3 separate regions of the Homo sapiens genome follow, and regions 1 and 3 are each linked to region 2. The links come from fine-mapping of genetic effects on gene expression. A gene starts in region 2. Each other region holds a variant in brackets. All regions are shown on one strand. Distances are between the middles of the regions.

The links. PIP is the estimated chance that this variant, and not a neighbour inherited with it, causes the effect.
Region 1: its variant is the best candidate, but not a certain one, in a credible set for the expression of ANAPC4 in lung (GTEx, PIP 0.52).
Region 3: its variant is the best candidate, but not a certain one, in a credible set for the expression of ANAPC4 in follicular helper T cells (Schmiedel 2018, PIP 0.76).

The regions. Positions count from the first base shown.
Region 1 is chr4:25,421,991-25,426,338 of GRCh38, forward strand. It overlaps LOC105374536 (a long non-coding RNA gene), which reads left to right and starts at 2,475. Exons shown (of 4, transcript XR_925494.3): 1 at 2,475-3,515. The variant T/C (reference allele first, on the strand shown) is at 2,293.
Region 2 is chr4:25,374,784-25,378,783 of GRCh38, forward strand. It overlaps ANAPC4 (anaphase promoting complex subunit 4), which reads left to right and starts at 2,480. Exons shown (of 29, transcript NM_013367.3): 1 at 2,480-2,561; 2 at 2,635-2,773. The coding sequence starts at 2,645. RefSeq lists a silencer at 2,183-2,602 and enhancers at 2,723-2,782, 2,813-2,882.
Region 3 is chr4:25,395,491-25,399,838 of GRCh38, forward strand. It overlaps ANAPC4 (anaphase promoting complex subunit 4), which reads left to right. Exons shown (of 29, transcript NM_013367.3): 15 at 1,174-1,274; 16 at 1,358-1,409. Among named protein-coding and RNA genes, the nearest start is that of ANAPC4, 20 kb to the left of the region's middle. The variant C/T (reference allele first, on the strand shown) is at 2,567.

The DNA of each region.
Region 1 (4,348 bases), 47 kb after region 2:
GCAGTCAGACTGAACTCACTGCTCAAGATATGAGGTGTAATGTGTAGTTATCACGGTACAGATGATAAATCTGTCCCACAACATGACTATAAGTGAAACTTATGTTTACTGGCTTATTATGTTTTAAGCAGTAAAACAAGACAAGTTTGTTGTTTGTGCTTCCTGCCATCAGATTTATGACTGAAAACTTTAGGGACTGTTTTTCTTCATTTCTGCATTCCTGATTCCTGTTACAGAGTGAATATTATTCTTTCAAGTGATATTTCTGTCCACTGTTCAGATAGTAAAACTGGGTGGAGCCCAAACTGGAGGAGTGGCCAGCTTGCTATAAATGATCCTCGTGATTGTCAGCATTTTCATGATACTGCAAAACTTTCTAACCTTGAGAATATGTTACTTCCCTTTTTCCTTTCCACCGCTTACTTTGTCCTGCCAAATTGTTGCAGGAAGAGAGATTCAAGGATTAAAAATATTTATGGGCCTGGCAGGTAGCTCACGCCTATAATCCCAACACTTTGGGAAGCCGAGGTGAGTGGATTGCTTGAGCTCAGGAGTTTCGGCAACATGGCAAACCCCGTGTCTATAAAATACAAAAATTAGCTGGGCGTGGTGGTGCATGCCTATAGTCCCAGCTACTCAGGAGGCAGAGGTGCAAGGGATTGAGCCTGGGAGGTGGAGGCTGTGGTGAGCTCTGATTGTGTCACTGCACTCCAGCCTGGGTGACAGAGACCTTGTCTCAAATAAATTATATGTATGATATATATGTGTGTGTGTGTGTGTGTGTGTGTGTGTGTGTATGTATATATGTATACATATATATATATATCCTCGTTCTCTTGGGATGGAAAGTTAAGATCTAGCGGCAGAGTGTGGATAGCAAAGGGGCTGGCTGAGACCATTGTTCTGGGGCCCTGCAAGGTGTAGGGCCCATTTTCTCCACTGGAGAAGGAGGAGACTACATGGCCCAGGTGGCAGGACACCCAAGTGACCAGTTCAATGGACACCTTTCAGGCTGGTGTAGTCAGGCATATCAGATGCTGCGGAGAAACAGCGAGATGGAAAATTGCCCATTACCTCTGAAAAGCTGCATGTCAGTTGTGACCCTGATAGAAACTTGGAGGCGTGTTGAGGACAGGAGCCCTATTGAAATGGGTGTAGAATGGATGTGAGGTGAGTCAGTGGAGGCCAAGTGGAGGCAACTCTGGAGGATTTTGCTGTGAGGGGCACAGAGATGGAGTGGTGGCAGGGGAGGGAAATGGCACCAGAGAACTTTTTTTAGAAAGATGGATGATACTAGGCATCTTTATTCGTCAATATGAGTGATCCACCAAAGAAGGAGAAATTGACCATTCTAGAGTAAAAGGAGATGCGCTGGAAGAAATCCTTGAGAAGGCTAAAAGGGCTAGGGCCCAGTGACCATTGCAGGGATCGAGCGTAGGGTGGAACATGACTTTCTTCCACCCTAATGGGAGTCTGTGGGGACAGGTGCTGGTGGGTGCAGCACCGCGTGGCAGGTGTAGCATTTTTCCCTCGGAGAGAAGTGTTCAGGTCTTTATGGAGAGTGATGAGGAGAGGAGAGGTAGAAAATAGGTGTCTCAGATTGGAAAATGAGAGAATTATGGAGTTTTAGAATCAGAGGGATAGAAATAAAGAGGCTATGACCAGAGAAGAGACATTGGCAGTCTTAGGGAGGTGGTGAAGTCTCTGATGACAGGTATAACCATGGCAGTTGGCAGCTGCTATTGGTGTGAAGGGGAAAGTCACTGGAGCCAAGTAGATTCAGAGCTGAGTGGCTGGGGTTTTGGATGGCTCATCTGTGTGGCTGGTAAAGTTGCAAAAGCAGATGGAGATGGTAACAGTGAGTTGGGTCCTGAGGTCACCCGTGAATGAGGAGGTATCAGTGGGGTATTGAGAGCAGAAGGAAAAACTGCTTCTGAGACTCTTGCTACCTTGAAAGACCCAGAGGAGGGTCAGGCACCTACCTAGTCAGTTAGTAGCAAGGCTGGGATCTAAGCCCAGGGGGACTGGACTGCCCTGGAGGAGCTCCTAACAGACACCTGTGGTTAGAAAGGACATGAGAACAGGATAAAAAGACTAAGCCAACCTGTAAGCATGGCCACTGCCTTTGAATCTCTGTCTACTGTAGGTTAGTGCTCCTCACACCTGGGAGGTAAGATTAAGGGCTCTAATGGTGGTGGACTTTTTAATTTAATTTAATTTTATTTTATTTTATTTTAGACACGATCTTGCTCTGTTACCCAGGCTTCAGGCTAAAGTGTAGTGGCATAAACA[T/C]GGCTCACTGCAGACTTGATCTCCTGGGCTCAAGCAATCCTCCCGAGTAGCTCAGATTAACAGCACATGCCACCACGCCTGGCTAATTTTTTTTTTTTTTGTAATGACGGGGTCTTGCCATGTTACCCAGATTGGTTTTGAAACCCTGGGCTCAAGCAGTCCTCCCACCTCAGCCTCCCAAAGTGCTTGGACTACAGGTGTGAGCCACCATACCTGGCCTTCTTTCTTCTTTTCTTTTTAACCCCAAGGCAGGGAGAAGTGGTCATTTCCGATTATTTTAAATCTGGAACCAGTAGCAATCCCCAGGTGTTTTAGGAAGGGGGTCTTTGTGGTTGCTGTCCTGCCTAATTTTGTCTTTAGTGCACTGTTGGTTACAGACACAATTATGTGTGTGGCACAGGGAGGAGAGGGCCCAAGATGACTGCGTGGAGAGTGGGCCTGAGCAAGCGCCTGCTCAAAGTCCAGGTCAGGAGGCTGGGTGAGGCGGGATGAACTGAACAGTCAGTTTGTTGCCCTGTGAAGGTGCAGTCCAGGGCCTTCCTAGCTCTGGGCCAATGTGGTCCATATCGCCAAACCTTTCCTGGGTGGTCTGAAGATTTTCTTAAGGGGAACTAACTGCCCAGTCCAGGCACCTCTGGCCATTTGGGGAATGAGGCAGGCAAGTCTCGGCTTGGCCTCAGTTCCCAGGCCCCTAGGAATTGGCACTGGGCTTCAGCTCGCTACTTAGCAGATCCAGTAGGGCCTAGACCCAGCTGGACCTGGGAGCCTCTGGAGCTGCCAAATTGTACATGAAATTCCTGTGTGCTTGGCCGGACAAGAGGTTCATGATCGAAGGGTTACTGCCTGCACCTGCCTCTGTCCCTCCCCCAGATTTTTCCTGTCTGCATTTGGCTTTTTAAGGTTCTCCTATGCAGAATTGGCTGTGGAAGAGAAATAGCATGGGAGAGATTGCAAGGTGCTTTTTATATACATTCTCACAGAATTCTCTAAACAACTAACTCTGCAATAAAGGGATTGCTCATCTTATTTTACAGAAAAGTTGAGAGAGATTTGGTTTGACGTGTCCCAAATCACGCAGCTAGTAGGCGGAACGGCCTGGATGCAAAACAGGTGGTCTGACTCCAGATAAGAATAATTGCTAACATGATTATTTAGTAAGAGTCAGAAATCATGCCAAGAACATTCCATGGATACTTACCTAAACATCATCACAGTCCTACAAGGTAAGTGCTATTATTATTAGCATCATTTCACAGATGAAGGACTTGAGGCCAAGAGATGTTTACTAAGTTGTCCACAGGAATTACACGGGCAGCAGGGTGGGACTGGGATGGGAAACCAGGCAGTCTGGCCACAGGACCCATTCCTTCAGCCACTGCACATGTTTCCTTTCTGGGGCCTGGATCCTTTGGCCCCTCCTGCCTTGCCCATGGCTGCACTCACAGAGCTCGGTCTTCCTGCAGTGGCACAACTACTTGAGTGTCTGTGTGGCACAGGCCAGCAAGGATGGCCAGGCTTGCATTCGTGATGAGCTTTGTTTTTCTCAGAGGTCCTTCATTCATAGCCACCATCGGCTCTGCGGAAACAGGCTGTGAGGAATGATGTCTGGTAGACCTTGGACCAGAACCTGGGCTTCTGACCCCGTAGTTTAGTGTGCTTTCCTCCAAGACAGTGCTTGTACAAAGCCAGTGTTACTTATGCATCCTTTGTCACCTTAAGAGAGTTTTTTTTTTTAAGACAGTCTCACTTTGTCACCAGGCTGGAGTGCAGTGGCACAATCTCAGCTCACTACAACATCTGCCTCCTGGGTTCAAGGGATTCTTGTGCCTCAGTCTCCCAAGTAGCTGGGATTACAGGTGCCCGTGACCACACCCAGCTAATTTTTGTGTTTTTGTTAGAGATGGGGTTTCACTGTGTTGGCCAGGCTGGACACCTTAAGAGATCTCTTGTGTGTCTTCAGGCTTCGCGGAGACAGAGCTGTACTCTCCCCAGAGAGGCTACCAGCTTACCAGGCTAAAAGAAGGGAGATTTCCCACTCTGTGTGTGTGTGTGTGTG
Region 2 (4,000 bases):
GGAGGCAAAAAACGGAGTAGGTAGAGCTAAAATCTTTATGGGGCAGTGGGAAAAAGAAAAGGCTGGAAACACGATGTGTTAATATTTCTTGTCTTACGGCTACTTTGGATCATTTCCAAGAACAATTCCTGCCCCTTACTGCCTACCAACACACATGAGGGTCTATAGCAAGCTTGTCTAACTCGCAGCCTGTGGCCCAGGAGGGCTTTGAATGCAGCCCAACACAAATTCATAAACTTTCTTAAAACATTGTGAGATTTTTTTTGTGATTTTTTTTTTTTAGCTCATCAGCTGTCATTACTGTTAATGTATTTAATGTGTAGCCCAAGACGATTCTAATGTGGGAAGACAAAAGATTGGACACCCCTGGTCTATAGCAGCATAAAACTCTGCTGTTTCCTGCCCACATCTGGAACTCCACACTTAGGCTGTTTCCTTTGCTGTAAGGCTTAGAAAATTTATATTCTGTGAAGACTTAATGTGCAGGTGGTTATACTCTGTCCTTTGCAGTACGGTGTTTATGCCTCTGGGAACAGTGATTTTCACGTGCTGTATGGGTGTTTGTATTCAGGTAAGTTCCAGGAAAATGGACATTCAATTTCCGTAAGAAGGTTAATGTGCATAGATACTAGACCCCCACCAGGTGATCCATTATAACTGCCCCAAAACACTAACACCTGAAAATGCATTTTGTGAAAAACAAAGGCAAATGCATTTTTACCTTAGAAATGTTGATTCTGGAAGAGTTGGGGGCACTTGGTAAGTTGTTTGTGGCAAAGGCAAGGGCTGCAAAGCCCGTGACAGGAAGCAGGGTAGGTATAAAGTCAAGGATTAAGAACAGTACTTGGCACAAAATAGTTACTTGATGCTGAATGAATTAGTCTCCCTCCGTCATCTACTTCCCAGGGGCTAGATCCAGACAGAGGTCAAGAAGATGGGGCCTGTTGAAAGTTAAAGGACCTGCCGTCTGTTTCTTCTTTGAACAAGTGAAAGGTAGTAAAAAGTAGATGGCTTTCTACCATAGGTTTTAAGTTTAAGAACCCTAGGATGGTACTGTCACATTCTCTTAGGGAGGTCATAGCTGTGGGAACTGTCAACAGGTTGACTCATTTAAATGTGTCCTACATAAAGCAACATCAGATGAGTTCTGATTTACAAGTCTGCCAGGCTGGCCTGTGAGCCTCTGGGCAGAGTTCCCGTCCCATGCATTGCTGTAGCCTCAGTTCCTCCACATAGTAAATGCCCAAGTACCTATAGAAGAAATCGTGTGTGAGCCCACACTCTTTTTTTATATTTTAGAGACGGAGTCTGGCTCTGTTGCCCAGGCTGGAGTGCAGTGGCACAATCTCGGCTCACTGCAAGCTCCGCCTCACTGCAAGCCCCGCCTCACTGCAAGCTCCGCCTCACTGCAAGCTCCGCCTCCCGGGTTCACGCCATTCTCCTGCCTCAGCCTCCCCAGTAGATGGGACTACAGGTGCCCGCCACCATGCCTGGCTACTTTTTTGTATTTTTTAGTAGAGACGGGGTTTCACCATGTTAGCCAGGATGGGCTCTATCTCCTGTCCTTGTGATCCGTCCGCCACGGCCTCCCAAAGTGCTGGGATTACAGGCGTGAGCCACCGCGCCCGGCCCTGAGCCCACACTCTTTATTCGTTATGACGGTGCTGCAACTACCAATAAGTTGTGAGGGTTAAATGGGATGAGATGTCACAGTATTATTTGCCTGTTAGGGAGGTTTTAGGGCACGCGCCTCTTCTCTCCAAATTGGAATCACCCAAAGAGTTTTAGTAAATACTGGGCCCATCCAGGGTTAATTTTCTTCTAATTGGTTTGGGGTGCTGCTTGGACAGGGGGACTTTTAAAATTCTATACTGACCCACCAGGACTGACATGAGAACTACTCGCTTAGTAACTGTTAGAGGAGGCGCCAGCTGATCAGGACCTAAAGTTCATATTCTTTTTCATCTCCCCGTTGTCGCTGAAGCCTACCCCATAAACCCCTACCGTCCCTTTGCCCACAGCAGAGAATTTCCGGGAAAACGGGAAAGGTATGCAAGCATGCCCACACACGTGCACACACGGGTTCCCAAAAGACCTGCGTGTGGCCGCAGGGGCCTGCCCCGCCCTTCTCGGGCCCTTTCAGGTCCCGGCGCCCAGCGATCCCACCAGCACCTGGGTCCGGCGCGCGGCTCCCTCCCTCTCCGCGCCCCTCGGGGCTCCCTGCCCCGCCCGCGTGCCCCACCCTTCCTAGCTCTGCCCCATCGCTGCTCCCTGCCCCGCCCACGGGCCCCATCCTACCCCCACCTCGATCCGCCCCTCGCTCCTCCCTGCCCCGCCCACCGCGCCCCGTCCCTGTCCGCCCCTTCTGGCTCTCAGCACCCCCAAGACCGGTGCGCGCCCCGCCCCTCCTCCTCCTCTCGCGAGGCAGTCCCGACGCCGGAAGTGCCTGGAGCGCGCGACAGCGGCGGGGCGGGGCGGCCTGGAGGCTGTGGCGCGCGGCCGGCAGAGGGAGGGGAGAGGCCACTGGGGCCGTGTTAGTCTGCCGGTGGGGACTCTTGCAGGTACAGGCGCGGTCGGGGCTCCTCGTGGAGAGCCGGGGGCTCCTGCCGGCCTCTGACTGGGGTGTCGTTGCAGGGCCGTCCCCATGTTGCGTTTTCCGACCTGTTTCCCATCCTTCCGGGTGGTGGGAGAGAAGCAGCTCCCGCAGGAGATTATTTTCCTGGTCTGGTCGCCCAAGCGGGATCTCATTGCTTTGGCCAACACAGCTGGCGAGGTGAGTGAGCCGGCGGGAGCCCGCCTGTGCTGGGTCTGCTCCCGGGGGGCCCAAGAACACCGAGCCCGAGCCTGTTCATTCGGGCCACAGGCGGCCGGAGCCTCAGTTTCCCCTTCTGCAGACATGGCTGGCCACCTGCTACCCCTTCCCTGCCTCCCAGGACGGCAGTAAACTTTAAGTATATATGCGAAAGGTGATGTCTGTGCTATTTTCGGTACTTTTATGGCTAAAGTAACAGTTTTCACACAGCTTAACACCGTCACGCAATCCTGCTTCCCCAAGTCTTCTTCACTCATTGGTTTATTAGTTAAATGAACTTTTTAAAAAAGCCCACTATGTGCTGCTCATGAGCTAGACATAATGGTAGATGCAGGGACCCTGCCCTAAGTTTGCTTACAGTTTTAATAGCAGTAGGAAGAGTTATTGTCAAACTTCAGCTGCAAATGTGCCTGCATGTAGCTGCCACACAGGATATATTTAAGAACCTGGCTTCTCTTGTCCACGTTTTATAGTACGGGTTGGATAACCACCCTCCACTAAAAATACCTCTAAATTGGACAAGGAAGGCATGCATTGGATTCCAGACAGAACGTGCATGGGTGTTATCAGCATTTCTTGTTCACATAAAACTTCATCGAGTATAAACCAGTTGTACCCAACTTTCTGCTGAGAGTTATTACCTGCCAGCCATTTTGTAAGGAAACCTTCACCTGTGCATCTTTCCGCCTCTGGCTTGAGAGTTATCTGGCCATGTGAGAGTTGTATAGAGCCAAATTTGGAAACTAGGTGATAAGGAAATCTTAGCACCCTGCAGACTGTAGTCTGCACCATGTTATCTACCATGATCCAGTCGCCAGGGTATTGATGTCTAATTTTTCAGGGCCCTCCATGAAATCTAGCTAGTCTCCCTCCGCTGCCGGGATGCTTTGAAACTCTGTTGTGGCTCTAGAGAGCAGCAGGTGGTACCGTCACAGAAGTAGGAGGGAAGGTAGACGGGAGGCACATCCGTGCAATCAGATGGGTAGGCGTGATAGAGGGCACTGTTACATCCATTTTCTCAGTGAAGGAAGAAGCAAGGGCATTGTTTATGGGTGAAGATGGAGAAGAATATATTGGAAGTTTGAGGAGAAAGAAGAGGTATGAAAAAGCTAACAAAGCAGGTGGACTTGGGAAACCTAATAGGATTGCCAGTCAGTGTTAAGACCCACATGAGATCGGTGTTATTAT
Region 3 (4,348 bases), 21 kb after region 2:
CGAGGCTGGAGTGCAGTGATGTGATCTCGGCTCACTGCAACCTCCGCCTCCCGGGTTCAAGCGATTCTCCTGCCTCAGCCTCTCAAGTAGCTGGGATTACAGGCGCAAACCACTACGCCTGGCTAATTTTTGTATTTTTAGTAGAGACGGGGTTTCACCGTGTTGGCCAGACTGGCCTCAAGCTCCTGACCGCAAGTGATCCACCTGCCTCGGCCTCCCAAAGTGCTGGGATTACAGGCATGAGCCACCACACCTGGTGGTGTTTGGTTTAAATTTTGGTATATTCCTTTATGCTGAGTCCCTGGCCCTAACTACATCACCCCTCCCTTGGACCACTGTAGCACCCTCTGGACTAGTTGGGCTCTTTCAGTACACACTGTCCTTTGAATGTATTTTCCCCAGTAGAGCTAAACATATTTCTCTCTTAAAAACTTCTAATGCCTTCCGTTAGAATGGAGACCTTTGTGTGGCCTTTAGCATACCTGCCTCTCTGCCTCGCCCACACTGATGGCCATTTAGTTTCTCCAACTTGACATTTTGTCTCCTGCCTAGGGCTTTTGCATATTCCTCTTGTCCCAACTTGTTCTTCACATGCATTCTTCAGCTCTCAGCTCATTCATTCCTTCAGAAAAGCCTTTCTGAATCCCAGATTAGCTCAGGTTCTTCTGTTATACCTGCACCCCATGTGTTTCCTTCAAGGCATTTATAGTAGTTGGAATGGTACACTGTATGACTATGCGATCATGACTGTCTTCCCTGTTATACTGTCAATGCCATGAGACCCTTTGATTGTGTTCACCGTTATGTCCCCAGTATATAGCACGGTACCTGACCCAAAATGGGAACTTAAGAAATATTTATTGAACATTGACTGTGTAGTAGTTGGGTGAACAAGATGGCTGTACAACTGTCTTAAAAGGGTCAGGACTAACTGTGGAACACAATTTGATCATCTTACAAAATTTGATCTTGTCATTTGTTTATCTCTGTAGTCACATTGACCAGATGGTTCTGCTGCAGTTTTTAGGAACAGTTTTGAGAAATAATTATTTCTCATGGAAACAAAATGAAAGTTACTTTCAGTTTTTATTTCTGAAAATTTAGAAATATTCAGGCAAGTTAGTCACTTGATGATCGTCATGATACTAATTTATTTCTGCTCTGTTTGGATAGTGGCTCGGAGTCTTTATTATACCATTTGAGTGAATTGAAAGGAATGGCTTCATGGAAGCAAAAATATGAACCTCTTGGACTAGATGCTGCAGGAATCGAAGGTAGTGATTTAATTTCTCAGTGAAATACATTAAACACAGTTTACTTATTTGACAAATGACGTTTATTTATTTTTTCCCTTTAGAAGCTATAACTGCTGTGGGTTCTTTTATACTCAAGGCAAATGAACTTCTTCAGTAAGTATTGGGAGTACCTGGAATCACTGACCTAAGAATATGTCACTTTTGACCTAAATAAGAACCTAGTAAGCTGTTATGATTCTCTTAAAATCAGTTTTTAAATTTTTATCACAATTATGCCTTTATATGGTTCCGAAAAGCCAGCAGCACAGAGAATTTATAAAGTAAAGCTGTATTTTCCTGTCCTGGTCATCCTTACCTCAGGTCTTCTCGCCAGAGGGAATCATTTTAACTCTTTAACTACTTCTATTTTTAGTTCTTCTATGGGTTACCTCCATATTTCTAAATTGTATGACTATGCCACATTTCTTTTGTCAATTTTTAGAAGTTATTCTCTTTGTTTTGTTTTTCTTAGACTGTTAGGCTTGCTTGTTTTCTTGCATTGTCTGTTTTTTCTGCATCCTTCCGTCCTTTCCCTTCTGAAGGGTGGTGTAGTACCTCTGGAGTCCCCTGTTCCAGATGCCTTCCTTAGCCTCCCACCCCTCTGCTTCAGCCTGCAGCTGTGGTCCAGTTCTCCTGCACGGCTACCACCCGGGCATTTTCTTCATTACTCTCCTGGGTTAGACCCAGAACTGCCAGGATTGCCTTTGTTTCTTGGCTTATTTAATCATTTTGCTGGAAAACATCCTCTAGTAACTTTCTCAAAAAGCAGACATAGAAGGTAAACTTTATCTCCTTTTGTGTTTTTTCTCCTACCCTCACACTTAATTGACAGCTGGCTTTAGGATTCCCTGAGGGTTATTGGTTTTCACATAGAACTTCAAAAGCAGAGTTCCATAGGATTCTGTGCTTTTTGTTGCTGATGGAAGGTCTGGTGCTTCTAATTCTTAGCCCTTTATAGTTTTTTTTTTTTTTCGTTTTGAAAAAGCTGTAAAAGCATTACTCTTTATTCTTGATATGTTGAAATTTCATAACAGTGTTTTTGGGTGTGGGCCTTTTAATTCATTGTGCTATAATAAGCCATTTTAACCTGAATTCTCTTGTATTATTCTTTTAATAATTTACTCCTCCCTCTTTTATTTACTTTATTATTATTTATTTATTTTTGCGATGGGGTCTTTCTATGTTGCCCAGGCTGGACTTGAGCTCCTGGGCTCAAGTGATCCTCTTGCCTCAGCCTCCTGAGGAGCTGGGACTACAGGAGTATGCCATTA[C/T]GCCAAGCTTTCTCTTTGTTTTAAACTAGATTTTTGTTCTAGAAATCTGTTTGGTCAGATATTAGAATTTGTGGTGGATTGATTTCTGTGTCTTTTCTTTTTCTCTTACATTTTTCATATCTTTGTCTTTTTGATTTTCTGAGAGTTTTTTGATTATTGTCAAATGTCAGTAAACATTTGTTGAGCACTTAACTATGTTTTAAATACAGTGATAAGTAATGTTGAGAAAAACCAAGCAAGAAACAAGGACCTAGGGCATGATAAGGTAGGGGATTCAACTTTATATAGGTGGTCAGGGAGGCCTCACTGAGAAGGTGAAGTTGGAAGGAGACGGAAGGGAGCAAGCCCTGTTGATATTTGGGGGTGGAAGGGGCAGCAAGTGTGAAGGCCCTGAGTTTGGAGCATGCCTGGCATGTTGCAGGGACAAGGGCACTATAGCTGAAGCAGATTGAATGAGAGTAAGGTAGGAGGTGGATTGACAGGTGATAGAGGATGGCCAGGTTGCATAGAGTCTGTGGGCAGTTGTTAGGACTTTGGCCTTTACTCTGGATGTAAAGAGAAGCCCTTGGGGATTTGGGAGTAGTGGAGAGGATATGATTTAGGCTTCAGAAAGATCCCTCTTGCTGCTCAGAGTTGAGAATAGCTCATAGATAGGCAAGGACAGAAGCCAAGAGAGAAATGGTGGTCAGAATCTGAAGTGGTCAGGATTGGGATATATTTTGAGAATGTAATTAACAAGATTTTCTCAATGCTTATCTGTAGATGGTGATAATAAGGGAGTCATAGATAATTATGAGTTTAGGGCCTTGGTACTTGAAAGAGTAGAATTGATATTTACTGAAAGGGGGAACAAATGTGAGGGCAGGTTTAGGGAGGGGGAGTGTAGAGTAAGATCAAGAGTTTGGTTTGGACATACTAGATTGTTCTTTAGACTTACTATTTTGAAGTAATTTTACATAAAAATTACAAGAATAATAGAGACAACTCTGCTAGTACTCCTTTACTTGATTCATCATTTAAAAATATTATACTGTATTTATCATATAATTTATCTTTTCTGAAACATGTGAGAGTATGTTGTTTATATCAGGTGCCTTTTACCTGGAATACTTTAGTGCGTATTTTCTAAGAATAAAATTATTTTCTTACATAACCACAGTACAGTTAACAAATTTAGGAATTTTTAACATTAATACAGTATATTAACCTACAGTTCAATTCCCCTTTAGCAGTTATCCCAATATGTCCAGTATGATAAGATGCAGTTCGGGATCACGTATTTGTTTTAGTTGCTGTGTCTCTTTAATTTTGAGCAGTTTCTTAAATTTTCTTGGTCTTTTATAAAAGTTGACATTTCTTTAAGAAGCACATCATGTATGTATGTATATGTATGTCTGTGTATCTTTTTTTATGTTTCTCATTTTAGGGTTATCTGATTTTTTTTAATGATTATATTTAGGTTATGCATCCCTGGCCAGAAATACTACATAATTGGTATGTCCTTCTCAAGTTGTCATATCCAGCAGCACACACAGTGTCCGTCATCCACCCCTCTCAGTGATGTTAATTTCGGCCACCCTGTCAGTGTGTTAGATGTATGGAATTTGAAATGCCCATTAGATCTGCAGGTGGAGCTGTCCAGCACAGTGTTAGTTATGTGAGACTAGCGTTCAAGGGAGGGGTCCAGGCTGGAAATGTGCATTTGGGAGCCATCAGCACATTGGTGTTATTTAAAGCCATGGGACTGGATGAGGTAATGAGTGTGCACAGAGAACAGGAGTG